Homo sapiens: one gene and its partners. The protein of the gene in region 3 purifies or fractionates together with the protein of the main gene of each other region. This does not show direct contact. Each region holds a gene or a part of one and is shown on either strand. Other genes may lie near its edges.

Region 1 (2,749 bases), on a different chromosome or scaffold from region 3:
CTTGCTAGTCATGTAAAATAGTACCACTACTTTGGAAAACTGGAACTTTTTAACGTTAAATGTGTAACTCTTCTATTACTCAGCAGTTCCACTCCTAAGTATTAAATATTTACCAAAAGAAACGAAAATATGCCTATAAAGCCTTCTATTAGAATTAACTGTGCTGTTATTCATTGCAGCATTGTTTTGTTCGTTGTGTATCATTGTTTTTTTAATAGTAAGAGACTGAAAACAGCCTCAATGTCCCATTACTAGGAGACCATTTAATTTATAGTCATTGCTATACTATCTAGCTGTAGAAAAATGAGAAGGATCTTTATGTATTGATATGTTTCTGAAATGTATTATTATGAAATGTAAAAAGCAGGATACAATCCAGTATACATATATATTTTTAAAGTGTGTATAGATGTGGATAGAATATCTCTAAAGGTATATTTAAAAAAATGTTTGGTGTCAGTTGCCCTTGAGAAGGGTTAAGATAAAGAAGATAAAGGGTGAGATAAAAAAAGAGGGACTTTCCACAGTTTACCCTTTTGTACTTTTTGAATTTTCTATCATGAATGCAATGCTATACACAATATAATTTTTTTAAAAAAATCCTATACTTAGAAATGCAGATTTGAGATCAGCAAAATCAGAAATTTAAGAAGATGTGGCATTCTAAGCAGAGAGGTCTAAAACTGCTGATAAGAACACTTTGAATAATGTGAACCTGACGTGCCCACCTGATTTATGGGATAATCTAAAACTATTATTCCCAAATACTAAACTGGCTACATCAGAATCACCTGGGGAGCTTTGTCAAAATACCTGGCCTCTAGTTCTGAGATTTTATTATTGTTCATTAGACCAGTGCTAGGGCATGAATGTTTTGTGTTTATCTTTTTTTTTTTTTAACTTTTATTTTAGGTTTAGGGATACACATGAAGGTTTGTTCCATAGGTAAACATGTGTCACAGGGATTTGTTGTACATATTATTTCATCACCCAGGTGTGAAGCCCAGTACTCAATAGTTATCTTTTCTGCTCCTTTTCCTTCTCCCACCCTCCCCTCTCAAATAGACTCCAATGTCTATTGTTTCCTTCTTTGTGTTCATAAGTTCTTATCATTACCTCCCACTTATAAGTGAGAACATGCGGTAGTTGATTTTCTGTTTCTGCATTAGTTTGCTAAGGATAATGGCCTCCAGCTCCAATGTTTTGTATTTAAAAGCCTCCAAGTGACTCCTGGCTTAGCCAGCTGTGGAAACCACTGGACTAAAACAAGCATGTCCTTACAAGCTTCCATTCGTTCCATGTTTTGGTCTTTTTTGGTTGAAGTTGTTTAGGAAGTACTGTGTTTGAGTTTATTCATTTCTTTATGCATTCAGAAAACATTGGTCACCTGTTATACATTATACGCCTATTACACATGAGGTTTTTAATGTATTTAGACCTGACAATAGGAGTGTCACTTAGATGTGATCTCAGTGTTGTGGGTAACTTTGTTTGTCTTTAATGAGAAATCTGGAACATAGATGATGATTTTTTCCTTTGAATTAACTTAATGTGTTCTCTTCCCTACAGATTTCAGAACTTATATTTCCACCTCTTCCAATGTGGCACCCTTTGCCCAGAAAAAAGCCAGGAATGTATCGAGGGAATGGCCATCAGAATCACTATCCTCCTCCTGTTCCATTTGGTTATCCAAATCAGGGAAGAAAAAATAAACCATATCGCCCAATTCCAGTGACATGGGTACCTCCTCCTGGAATGCATTGTGACCGGAATCACTGGATTAATCCTCACATGTTAGCACCTCACTAACTTCGTTTTTGATTGTGTTGGTGTCATGTTGAGAAAAAGGTAGAATAAACCTTACTACACATTAAAAGTTAAAAGTTCTTACTAATAGTAGTGAAGTTAGATGGGCCAAACCATCAAACTTATTTTTATAGAAGTTATTGAGAATAATCTTTCTTAAAAAATATATGCACTTTAGATATTGATATAGTTTGAGAAATTTTATTAAAGTTAGTCAAGTGCCTAAGTTTTTAATATTGGACTTGAGTATTTATATATTGTGCATCAACTCTGTTGGATACGAGAACACTGTAGAAGTGGACGATTTGTTCTAGCACCTTTGAGAATTTACTTTATGGAGCGTATGTAAGTTATTTATATACAAGGAAATCTATTTTATGTCGTTGTTTAAGAGAATTGTGTGAAATCATGTAGTTGCAAATAAAAAATAGTTTGAGGCATGACAACGCGTGTTTCTGTTGTGTGCATAAAAGGGGAAAAGAACGGGTATTTCCCTTCAATGTATTTAACTAAATAGCAAAAACATTAAACAGAACGTAAGAATTTTAAAATTTCCTTTGAAAAATCAACTATTAACCATACTTTTCCTAAAAGACCACATATCAGAATATGCATATGAAAAGTTAAAAATTTGTTAGTGGTAGTTATTGAAAATATAATAAAACATCTTTTAACTATCAGTGTCACTATACATAGGGTTTTTTAACAAAGAATTTGGCTCGTACTAATTTTGACATGACATCTGACTTACATGTCTAATGCCATTGCATAAAGTAGATGTGTTCTTACAGCTGCTCTAATCTCTGTGCCTTGTGCTTTTTTTAAAAAACATTTAAGTCTTTACTAGAGGCCTAAAATAAAGTCAAATAATACAATACTTCAGATTCTTCAGTAGTCCATATTTATACAACTGTAATTCCATCAGTCTTGTAAGGGTACTTGA
Region 2 (3,500 bases), on a different chromosome or scaffold from region 3:
ATGCTACAGAGAAGTTGATATATATATATATATAAAACATACATATTTACATATATATGTAAGTATTTAGTAATGTATACTATATCCCAGTGGCTCCCAAACTTCGCTGCTCATTAGAGTCACCTGGGAGCTTTGAAACAAATCCCACGCTTGTGTTGCTTCCCATACCAATTAGAATATCTAAAGGTAGGAGTATGTTTTAAAATTCCAGGTGACTCCAATATGCAGTAAAGTTTTAGACCACTGGCATAGGCTAAAAATTATATGTGTAAAATACAATTTTATTATGTAATTATGTAAGAGAAAAAAATTTTTATAAGATTGTTATTTTGGCTATTTAATCATTTTAAGTGAATAAAACCATAACTAATACATCCAATGAACACCTTTCAATTGTGAACTTCTCAGTAGTGTTAGGAATTTGATACCATAATCTCTTACCTTTCTTCTTTCCCTCTTAACACCTTGGTTTCTTGATACCATTAATCTCTTACCTTTCTTCTTTCCCTCTTAACACCTTGTTGGCTTCTCTTGTCAATGTCTGTGAATTTTGATGTTCTTCAGGGCTCAAGTCCCAGGCCCTCTTTGTTCACTCATTTTATGTATTGTTCCTTGGTGATCTCATTATTCCCAGAACTTTAATTATTAGCATATGCCCATAATGTACAAATCAAATTCTAATACTCACACTACTCTCCTGAACTCCAGACAAACATAGTCAACTGCCTTACTAGATATTTCAAGGGGGTTACCTGCTAGGTACTTCAGATCTTATATACTCCAAACTGAATTCATCATCAATCTCAAAACCTGCTCTTCCCTCTTTATTCCCTATGTCAGGGTGTGAGGGAGTAACTCTGCTGAGTTACTTAAGCCATCAACATGGCTTGCCTCCTTGTTCATGCTCTATATAATGCCAACTTACAATCCCATTGTCACAAACCTACACTGAACTATAACTCTTTCTCACCTGGCTTACTGCCTATTTTCATTTGGTCTACCTGATTCTAGTCTTGCTCCTTTTCCAGTCCATCTTCCACATTCCTGCCAGAGTAATTTTTTTTTTTTTTTTAATAAAAATGACTGTGGTCTTCTCCTGCTTAAACTCCTCTAGAATTTGTTTTGTCTGGAGCATAAAGACTAAATTTTTTCTGTCTTAAAAATCTATCCACAATCTTACTCCCTCTATTGCCAACCTGGTCCCATATCACTTTTTATTGTTTCTAGTTTTTTGATTTTTCCACGTTATCTCTTGCAATTGGAATATTCTTCTATACCTTTTACTGGGCTATTTCTAATTCATACTTCAGTGTAACATTTCAACTTAAATGTTACTCACTCTGGGAAGTCTCTGACCATGGAGACTAGCTTGATTTCCCATTCTGTGTTTCCTGAAACATACACTTCTCATGTTGTATTATAATTATACTTCCTTGTTCAATTAAGTTCCTTGAGGACAGCAACTAAGTATATCTTACTCATTGTCTATTTATAACACCCACTACAGCATTTGGCACATTTCTAGCACTTGACATTTCTTGAATTAAAACATTATTTCTAAATTTAACAGTAATCCAGTAAGATATGAACATATCACATCTGGGTTAAAGCCTGGGTTATTGCAGGTAAAAAGAAATAGCTGAAGTACTTAGATTCAGTTCCTGGATCTGCCTCTCTCTATGCAACATTGGCCAAATTACTTAAACTTTATCACTTCCTTCATATTTTAAAAGAGATAATACTGTACATTCCTCACACATTTGGCAAATAGACAAAACAAAATAATACAAAATTGATTTGGAAGCCAAAGTACTAAACACTCAGAATAAAGTATGTCTACTAGCCTAAGCAGCAAACAGCTCTGGTTAATAGATTATTAGAGGAACAAAGTTACTCTATTTTGCCTATATTATGCCAAATAATACTTTATCTTAGCTTATATTTTCCACTTAAAGAAATAACTTTGCCAAATACAGGACTCCTATTTTCTCAAAATTCTTCTAAGAGTGCTACAATTAACCCATACTGAAATGCACCACACATAGGGTGACCATGGCCAGAACAATCCCCGTTCTGTGCTGTCTTGGCTGACTTACTAGTGCCCTTTCCCTCTTTCAAAAATGTTCCACTTTGGAAGATAAATGGTCACCTCAACTAAGTACTATTCTTTATGACCTGCTTAAGCTCATTTTATACATTCTAACAAATATTGGTCAAAAGAAAGACTCACAGTTTTATATTTAAATTAAATATAGAAATACCTGAATTTTTATGGTGCTATTTTTAATTTCCTGAAACTTCCGTTTCTGTATAAATCCTTTACTTCTAGCTTGAATAATGATAACACTGCTTCTGATCTGTAAATAGACTTGTCTTTGATGTTTTGCAGACAGAAATGCTCTGTAGTGATTTTGTAAAACCACTGCTGCTTTTCTATATAGTAAAAACTGTTTTCTGGTTTGCCACGTCCTAAAATAATGCTGTAAAGTGATAGCAGCTCTTTTCTGCTGAACAAATCTTCTCCGATACACAGCCATCTGAAGGAAGAACTGAATCCGTAGGGCAGCACATTTCTGTGTTTCCAGTTTTCTTGTGACCATTCTACAAAAAGCTTTTTGAATTGTTACTGCAGCCCTACTTTGAGAATGATACTCTGCTTCCTGTGAACAAGCAAGGCCAGAAGCTTTATACCACTCTTGAATCATAACACCTTCACTTTGAACAGCTTCATACTGAGTTTTACTTCTGTAACAGCAGAGTGCAGATTGGTTAACAATGGCTGCCATCTTTTCCTCTGATACATTTTTCAATTTTTGTCTAACTTTCATGCCTCTAAAAGCAGCCTGAATAGTTCGTACAGATTTCTGAACTGCTAAAAAGTTTTTTCTTTCTGTTTTTACTCTAACATACAACCTATAATAATTCTGTATAACCACAATTGCAGTTTTCTTTGTTTCATAATCAACTTTGGCCCTGTGCATTCGATAGAATGACTGAATTAGTGTGGCAGCCCGGTGCATATTTTGAATATCCTTTCGTACTTTAAAGCCTCTGTAATAAGACTGTATACAAATAACTGCTTGGGTACGCACTGCAGTTAGTTTTCTGTATCTTCTTTGAATAGAAACTACTGTTGCTCTAAGGTGGAGATAATGCTTCCTTATTTTAAAGGCTTTACAATGCTTCTGAATAATAATGGCAGCCTGGTGCTGTTCCTGAATCTGTTTTTTTATGTTCATGTCCTGAAAACCTGCCTGAACACAAGTCTCTTTCTTAAGTTCATTGTGTTGAAATACTTTCTGTTTCTTTTTATTTGCTCTATATTTTTCTTGTATGATTTTTGTAGCCCACTGAAGCTTTTGGTAGAAACAATACTGCCTATACATTCTGTAGGTGCTTTGTATTACGATAGAAGCTTTGTGTTTTTCCCTTAAAAGTTGTCTTGCTTTCATTCCTTTATATGCAGCCTGAATAACCACAGCAGAATGCCATTGTCTGAT
Region 3 (3,668 bases):
TAATGTCAGGACAAGGAGTGTGCCACAAGGATCCATCAAATGATTTTAAGCTTAAGAGAAACATGATCATAGGAAAGATTAGGAAGTGATTAGGGATTATGAAGAAATTAAAGACAGGAAGATTATTTGAGAAGAAACATGGACATTCCCTAAGTGGGCATGGATGTCTTAGAAGTTTCTGAGGTCACAGCAACAAGATTTTGTCTCTTAGTTGACTTGTTTTTAAGGGTCGGTATGAAGGGTAGGTAACTTAAAAATTTGATTTTGAGGTTTCTGTATTGGACAACATAGGAATTTAGGAGGGGAATCATCTCCTGCATATATTAAAATAAGCAAGAGGCCATTAGTTTGAAGCTGTTTCCATACTTTGAGTTCCTATCTAACAAACCGCAAACTAACTTAGCATGTAAACAGACTGAAACTTAACATAAGCTGTATAAAAGACAGCCTAATTTCAGCCAAACACAACTAGCCAGGCTCCAGCTAATTACAGGCAGTCAAGTGACAAGACCATGTCCAAATAAGGCAAATGCCTTGCTGTAGCCAATCAGGTGATTTTTCTCTTTTGTGTCCAAACTCAGCCTATAAAAATTCACTTCTCATGTTGCTGGGAATAGCTCTCTGAAACTCTTCTGGTTCTGAGTACTGACAAATTCATGACTCGTTTTTCTTTTTTTTTTTTTTTGGTTGTTGTTTATGTGTAAACAAACTGTTAACGTTGTCTAACGTTTTTCTTTTAACAGGGAAAAGGGGGAGTCATATCATGAACATTCTGATTGTATGTGTCTGTAGGACATGTATGAAATGTGAATCTAGATTGGGAGTTTGACATCTACAGGCCAAATCATGCCAACTGCCTGGTTTTATAAATGAACTTTTATTAGAACATGGCCATGGTCATTTCTTCAGGTATTATTTATGGCTGCTTTTGTGCTACAAGTAGTTGGGATAATCTTTTGCCCACAAAGCCTCAAATGCCTGCTATCTTGCCCGTTTCAGAAAAAGGTCACTAACCTGTATACTAGGATTTAGGAGTCTGGAAAATGAACTGCAGAATTTTCATGGGTTGGGGGCTTTTTCGTGTTCTAGAACATACCCATTATTCCCCCTTCAACCTCTAGGGGGGTCCCTACTAGCCGTTGGCATGGGACAAACCATTGTCAAGAGGGAGGGATACATGGGACTTTTTTGACTTGATTATAAGGGCTTAATTTTCTTGGTTCTAAGTCTTTTCTGACCACTCCTGTTTCTTCCGACCTTTAAGGGCTCCCAACCATGTGACAGGTTCCCTTAAATCCCAATGGAGTGGCAGGGGCCTTCCTCACTCACTCCCTTCCACTCCTGGTATCTCTGGAAATTGGAACAGTCCCAGAGTAAAAGCCGACGTTGGCCCTGAGTCTTCCTTTCCCTGGAACCTTAGGAGGGAGAGAGATCTTCCTCTCTCTTCGGGCGTGTTAAGACAGCGGGGTTGGCCTGTACTTCCTCTGGCCCTGGCTGAAGAGGTGAGGCCTGGTGGGAGGTGTCCTAGGGTAGGACAAGCCGGTCAGGGGGTCATTAGGACGGTCTTGTCAGAGCGGGTAGGGCGGGGACAAGAGGGCGGGAGAAGATGGATGAGGGGAGGGGCTAAGGGGGAGGAAAGGAACCTATTGGCTGCTCCATCCACACAGGGCTAGTGAAACCGTTAAACCCCTAGGCGATCATGGCCTTGAGACCTGAGGACCCCAGTAGCGGGTTCCGGCATAGCAACGTGGTGGCCTTCATCAACGAGAAAATGGCCAGGCACACGAAAGGCCCCGAGTTCTATCTTGAGAATATATCCTTATCCTGGGAGAAGGTGGAAGACAAGCTGAGGGCCATACTGGAGGACAGCGAGGTGCCCAGTGAGGTCAAAGAGGCCTGCACCTGGGGCAGCCTGGCCTTGGGAGTGCGCTTTGCCCACAGGCAGGCACAGCTACAAAGGCACAGGGTGCGGTGGCTGCACGGCTTCGCCAAACTGCACAAATCAGCCGCACAGGCCTTGGCATCAGACCTGAAGAAGCTCAGGGAGCAGCAGGAGACGGAACGCAAGGAGGCGGCCTCCCGGCTAAGAATGGCCCAGACCAGCCTCGTGGAGGTGCAGAAAGAGAGAGACAAGGTGAGTTGGAAGCCGCTCCATGCAGTAAGATCCCTCAACTGGTCCCTGCCCAGTACCACTGCCCTGCCCCATTCCCACCCCTCTCCACCCTGCTCCATGGCTTCGCCCTGCCCCGCCCTTCCCACCTGGTAGCTCCGTCCTACCCTGCTTAGTGCTCCCGCCTTGCCCCCAGAACACACCTCAGCCCTGCCCACTTCTCTCCAGGAGCTGGTGTCTCCCCATGAGTGGGAGCAGGGGGCAGGGTGGCCAGGCCTGGCCACTGCCGGAGGGGTTTGCACAGAAGGAGCAGCTGAGGAGGAAGAAGAGGCGGCGGTGGCTGCTGCTGGTGCTGCTGGAGGAAAAGGAGCAGAAGAAGAGCAGAGGGATGTGGAGGTTGTGGCTGCCCCTGTGGAGGCCATGGCTCCCCCTGTGGAGGCTGGGGCTGCCCCCATGGAGACCCAGTTCCCCCACGTGGAGGCCAGGGCTGCCTCCATGGAGACCACAGAGAAGCTGGAGAGAATCCTCCTGCAGCTCCTTGGAGATGCTGATCAGGAAAAGTACACCTATTGGGGGCAGAAGGAGGGAGATCTCCGGTCGGTCGAAACAGCCACATCTTATTTCTCTGGAACCACGAACCCCTGGTCCAGAGCCTCATCAGAACCTCTTCCTGTCCAGCTCCCTGCCTCATACTCATACTCATACTCAAGCCCTTTTTCCTCCTTCTCAGACATACCCACTATATCCCCTCCACAAGCAACAGTCACAGCACCAGTTCCGCCTCAGCTGCCTTCCGACTGGGAGGCCTTTGATACTAGCCTGTGGTCTGATGGGGGGCCCCACAGAATAGACCATCAGGAGCACCCAAGAGACAGGAGATACTCCGAACCTCATCAGCAAAGACCTCCAGTATATCGCAGGCCAGGGGACTGGGACTGCCCTTGGTGTAACGCTGTGAATTTTTCACGGAGGGATACTTGCTTCGACTGTGGGAAGGGAATCTGGCTGCAAAAACCTCATTGAGTGCAGAAATGCAAAATAGAACCGAAGCATGTATATCTCGATGGCGAATTAATTTTCAGAGGGCAGGCTTGTGGTGGCGGGGGCCGGGGTGGTAGGGGAAGAAGGCTGGGAAGAGTGGGGGAAGGAGGTGAGACAATGGTACCTTTACGAATAACTTCAGAGATAGGGGTGGTGACTGGAGGAGGGGGAGGAAAGTAGGGGTTGTGAAAGAGGTGTAGAAGTGGGGTGGTGGCCAGGGGAGGTATAGATTGGGGTGGGGAGAGAGAGACACATGGAGACAGACATGTTTTGGTGACCCCCTTTGTATTCCAGAGCACTTGCACTCAATACCCCAGAAGTGCTGCAGCTTTTATTTGTGTATGTCTCGCTCGCTCTCTCCCTGCCCTAGTGTCTGGTAAAAGAGGCAACCATGTGTATAACACCCCACCCTCTACTCGCATCTAGGCCTTAGATGATTGGAGCAGGAGTGGATATTTGGCCCATCCAGAGCCAAATGGATTTTTCATGCTAGACACTCTGAACAGAGAGGCCGATT
Region 4 (2,371 bases), on a different chromosome or scaffold from region 3:
GAGTGCAGTGTTCTATGAATGTCATTTAAGCCAGGTATGTTAATTGTTATTCAAATTTTCTGCTTGTTGGCCAGGCACAGTGGCTCATGCCTGTAATCCCAGCACTTTGGGAGGCTGAGGCTGGCGGATCACCTTAGGCCAGGAGTTCGAGACCAGCCTGGCCAACACGGCGAAACCCCGTCTCTACTAAAAATACAAAAATTAGCAGGATGTGGCAGCGGGCGGCTGTAATCCCAGATACCCAGGAGGCTGAGGCAGGAGAATTGCTTAAACCTGTGAGGCAGATGTTGCAGTGAGCTGAGATTATGCCACTGCACTCCAGCTTGGGAAACAAGACCGAAACTCCAATTCCCAAAAACAAAACAAAACAAACCAACAAATTTTCTATTTGTTATATCTGCTTTTGAAATAAACATATGAAAATATTTTTCCAAAAATTAAATTCCATAATGTATCAGGAAAGAAAAATATAATTTCATTCTAAGGTTTCCTATTCCAAATTTTTTCTCTGAGTTTTTGAAAGCAACAACTTTGTATATCCCCCTTTTCCTAGCCTTTAAGCAGCAGGAACAATGAGCAGAGGAATAATATGTAGTTAGTAAGCAAGGCATGCTCTGAAGGCTACCAATGCTGCTCCTGTTCCACCAGTGAAACAGGCCACAGGCCCTCTAAGGCTCTTGAAAAAAGAACGTGGAAGCATAGGGCAGCTGTGTCCCACTGACAGCCAGGCATGGAAACAATCCTGGAGATGTGCTCCAAGCCTTGAACTTGAGGAAATGAACATCAAAGTTCGTAAGATGTTTCAAGCATTACCTTGTCACTATGGAAGTCTCTCCCTACACTGGCACTAAGTTCTGGCCAATATGGCCAGGAGTGAAGTTCTGTCCCAGTAAAACATACTTTTATCAGGTAAGGGGCATCATCCCCCTCCCAGCCTCCCAAACAGCTTTTGTACCTCAGATGGAGTCTCCCCAAAAAACATGTTCACAAAAGAACCACTACTGCCATCTTAGCAGGGCTGTGTGTGTGTGTGTGTGTGTGTTGTGTAGGTAGACAGAGGGGAGAAGCAGGCATGACAAGGATCACCTGACCAAAGTGCCTAGTTACCCATATACTGATAGAATAAAATCTCCAGTGTAAAGGAAAAATTATTTTTACAAAAACAGAAGCATGTTTTATTTCAATCCTGTTAAGGGAGAGGGATGGAAAACACAAAATAAGGGGAGGGGTCTCTTTATATAATACACACACCAGGATCAACTACAATGAATAATACCCATTCCATCCCTCCCCCACCAACTCCTATGTGGGTTCCAAGGCCAGCTGAGAATAGATGGGACAAGAATTAAGACACTTTGGCACAGTAACATGGCCAATGCACCGAAAGATGGAGAGAAGAGAATTTCCCAGGGAGCAAGGCCCTGGGCCTCAGCTGCTTCCCCAGTGGAGGGGTAATGAGAAAACTTTGGCTCAGCAGGAAGGCGGTTGTCAAAAATCTGGGTTACCTTAACTGGACTCTCCAGATCACAGACTACGGGCTGAATAGAGTCAAGATGTCTATCCAGTCCATTCTGTTCTCTGCTTTCTCTAAGATCACTTCTCTTCAGGCTTGCAATTATTGAGGGTTGGCCTGCTTCTCCTCTTCATCTTGGAAGGCAGGGGGAGTAAGTGCTTATTCTGCCCTTCCTATATCTAGGCCACTTAATTACTATTTTCTTGGCTCTAAAGAGACAGAAGCCAACTAACAAGTCCGGCTCTCTTTGTGAAAGTCGGCTTGAAAGAGCCCTTGTGTTGGCAAAACTGCCTCTGCAAATGGGTTTTTTTTTTTTTGAGCCTACCCCTTATAGACCCTCCCCAAGCTTGTTCAGACACCTCAATTGTGTGAGATGTGGGCAGAAAAGACTTGGTCCCTCTCCAGAGTTGGATTAAGCAATCCCATCTTTGACTGGAGATAGGGATGAGAAAGCAGGTGCTAGCAGGGGAAAGAACCGGGGAAAGCAAGGCAGTTTACACTAGGTTGCAGATTCAAGCCTATGGATTGTGAAGAGCCACCTAAGCTCCAGAGAAGAGGAAATCTCTGACACGATATGAACAAGTGAATATTTTAGCGGCAACCCTGTAATTCCCATAGACTAAAAGAGAATGGTCAAAAAAAAAAAAAAAAAAAAAAAAAAAAGACTGAGTGAGCAGAACCCAGCCCTCCATCTTCAATCTGAATAAAATTAACTCATACAGCTAATACTGCTCAAGTACAATCATGAAGACAGATGGAGCTGCTGAAATTCACACTAAAACAAAGAAAAGGATCAAGTGGACTGTCACCTTAATCCCAAGCACCTCCCTTTTAGAGTTATTGAGAAAATATCTTTGA

What was found.
Region 1: the proteins of TEX13A (region 3) and BTG3 purify together in Homo sapiens (affinity purification with mass spectrometry; 2 studies listed by BioGRID and IntAct, with this or other methods). This does not show direct contact.
Region 2: the proteins of TEX13A (region 3) and ASPM purify together in Homo sapiens (affinity purification with mass spectrometry; 2 studies listed by BioGRID and IntAct, with this or other methods). This does not show direct contact.
Region 4: the proteins of TEX13A (region 3) and CNOT9 purify together in Homo sapiens (affinity purification with mass spectrometry; 2 studies listed by BioGRID and IntAct, with this or other methods). This does not show direct contact.

The regions. Positions count from the first base shown.
Region 1 is NC_000021.9:17,593,153-17,595,901, reverse strand, and holds the end of BTG3 (protein BTG3), read left to right. Parts: intron 1-1,569; coding exon 1,570-1,809; 3' UTR 1,810-2,249; downstream 2,250-2,749. UniProt on the Homo sapiens protein: Overexpression impairs serum-induced cell cycle progression from the G0/G1 to S phase.
Region 2 is NC_000001.11:197,098,170-197,101,669, forward strand, and holds part of ASPM (abnormal spindle-like microcephaly-associated protein), read right to left. Parts: coding exon 2,262-3,500; intron 1-2,261. UniProt on the Homo sapiens protein: Involved in mitotic spindle regulation and coordination of mitotic processes.
Region 3 is NC_000023.11:105,218,429-105,222,096, reverse strand, and holds TEX13A (testis-expressed protein 13A), read left to right. Parts: upstream 1-1,402; 5' UTR 1,403-1,502; intron 1,503-1,667; 5' UTR 1,668-1,699; coding exon 1,700-2,134; intron 2,135-2,338; coding exon 2,339-3,133; 3' UTR 3,134-3,168; downstream 3,169-3,668. UniProt on the Homo sapiens protein: Binds to ssRNA containing the consensus sequence 5'-AGGUAA-3'. Plays a role in transcriptional repression. Required for rapid sperm motility and timely degradation of mRNA via its interaction with CNOT1.
Region 4 is NC_000002.12:218,595,210-218,597,580, reverse strand, and holds the end of CNOT9 (CCR4-NOT transcription complex subunit 9), read right to left. Parts: 3' UTR 501-2,371; downstream 1-500. UniProt on the Homo sapiens protein: Component of the CCR4-NOT complex which is one of the major cellular mRNA deadenylases and is linked to various cellular processes including bulk mRNA degradation, miRNA-mediated repression, translational repression during translational initiation and general transcription regulation.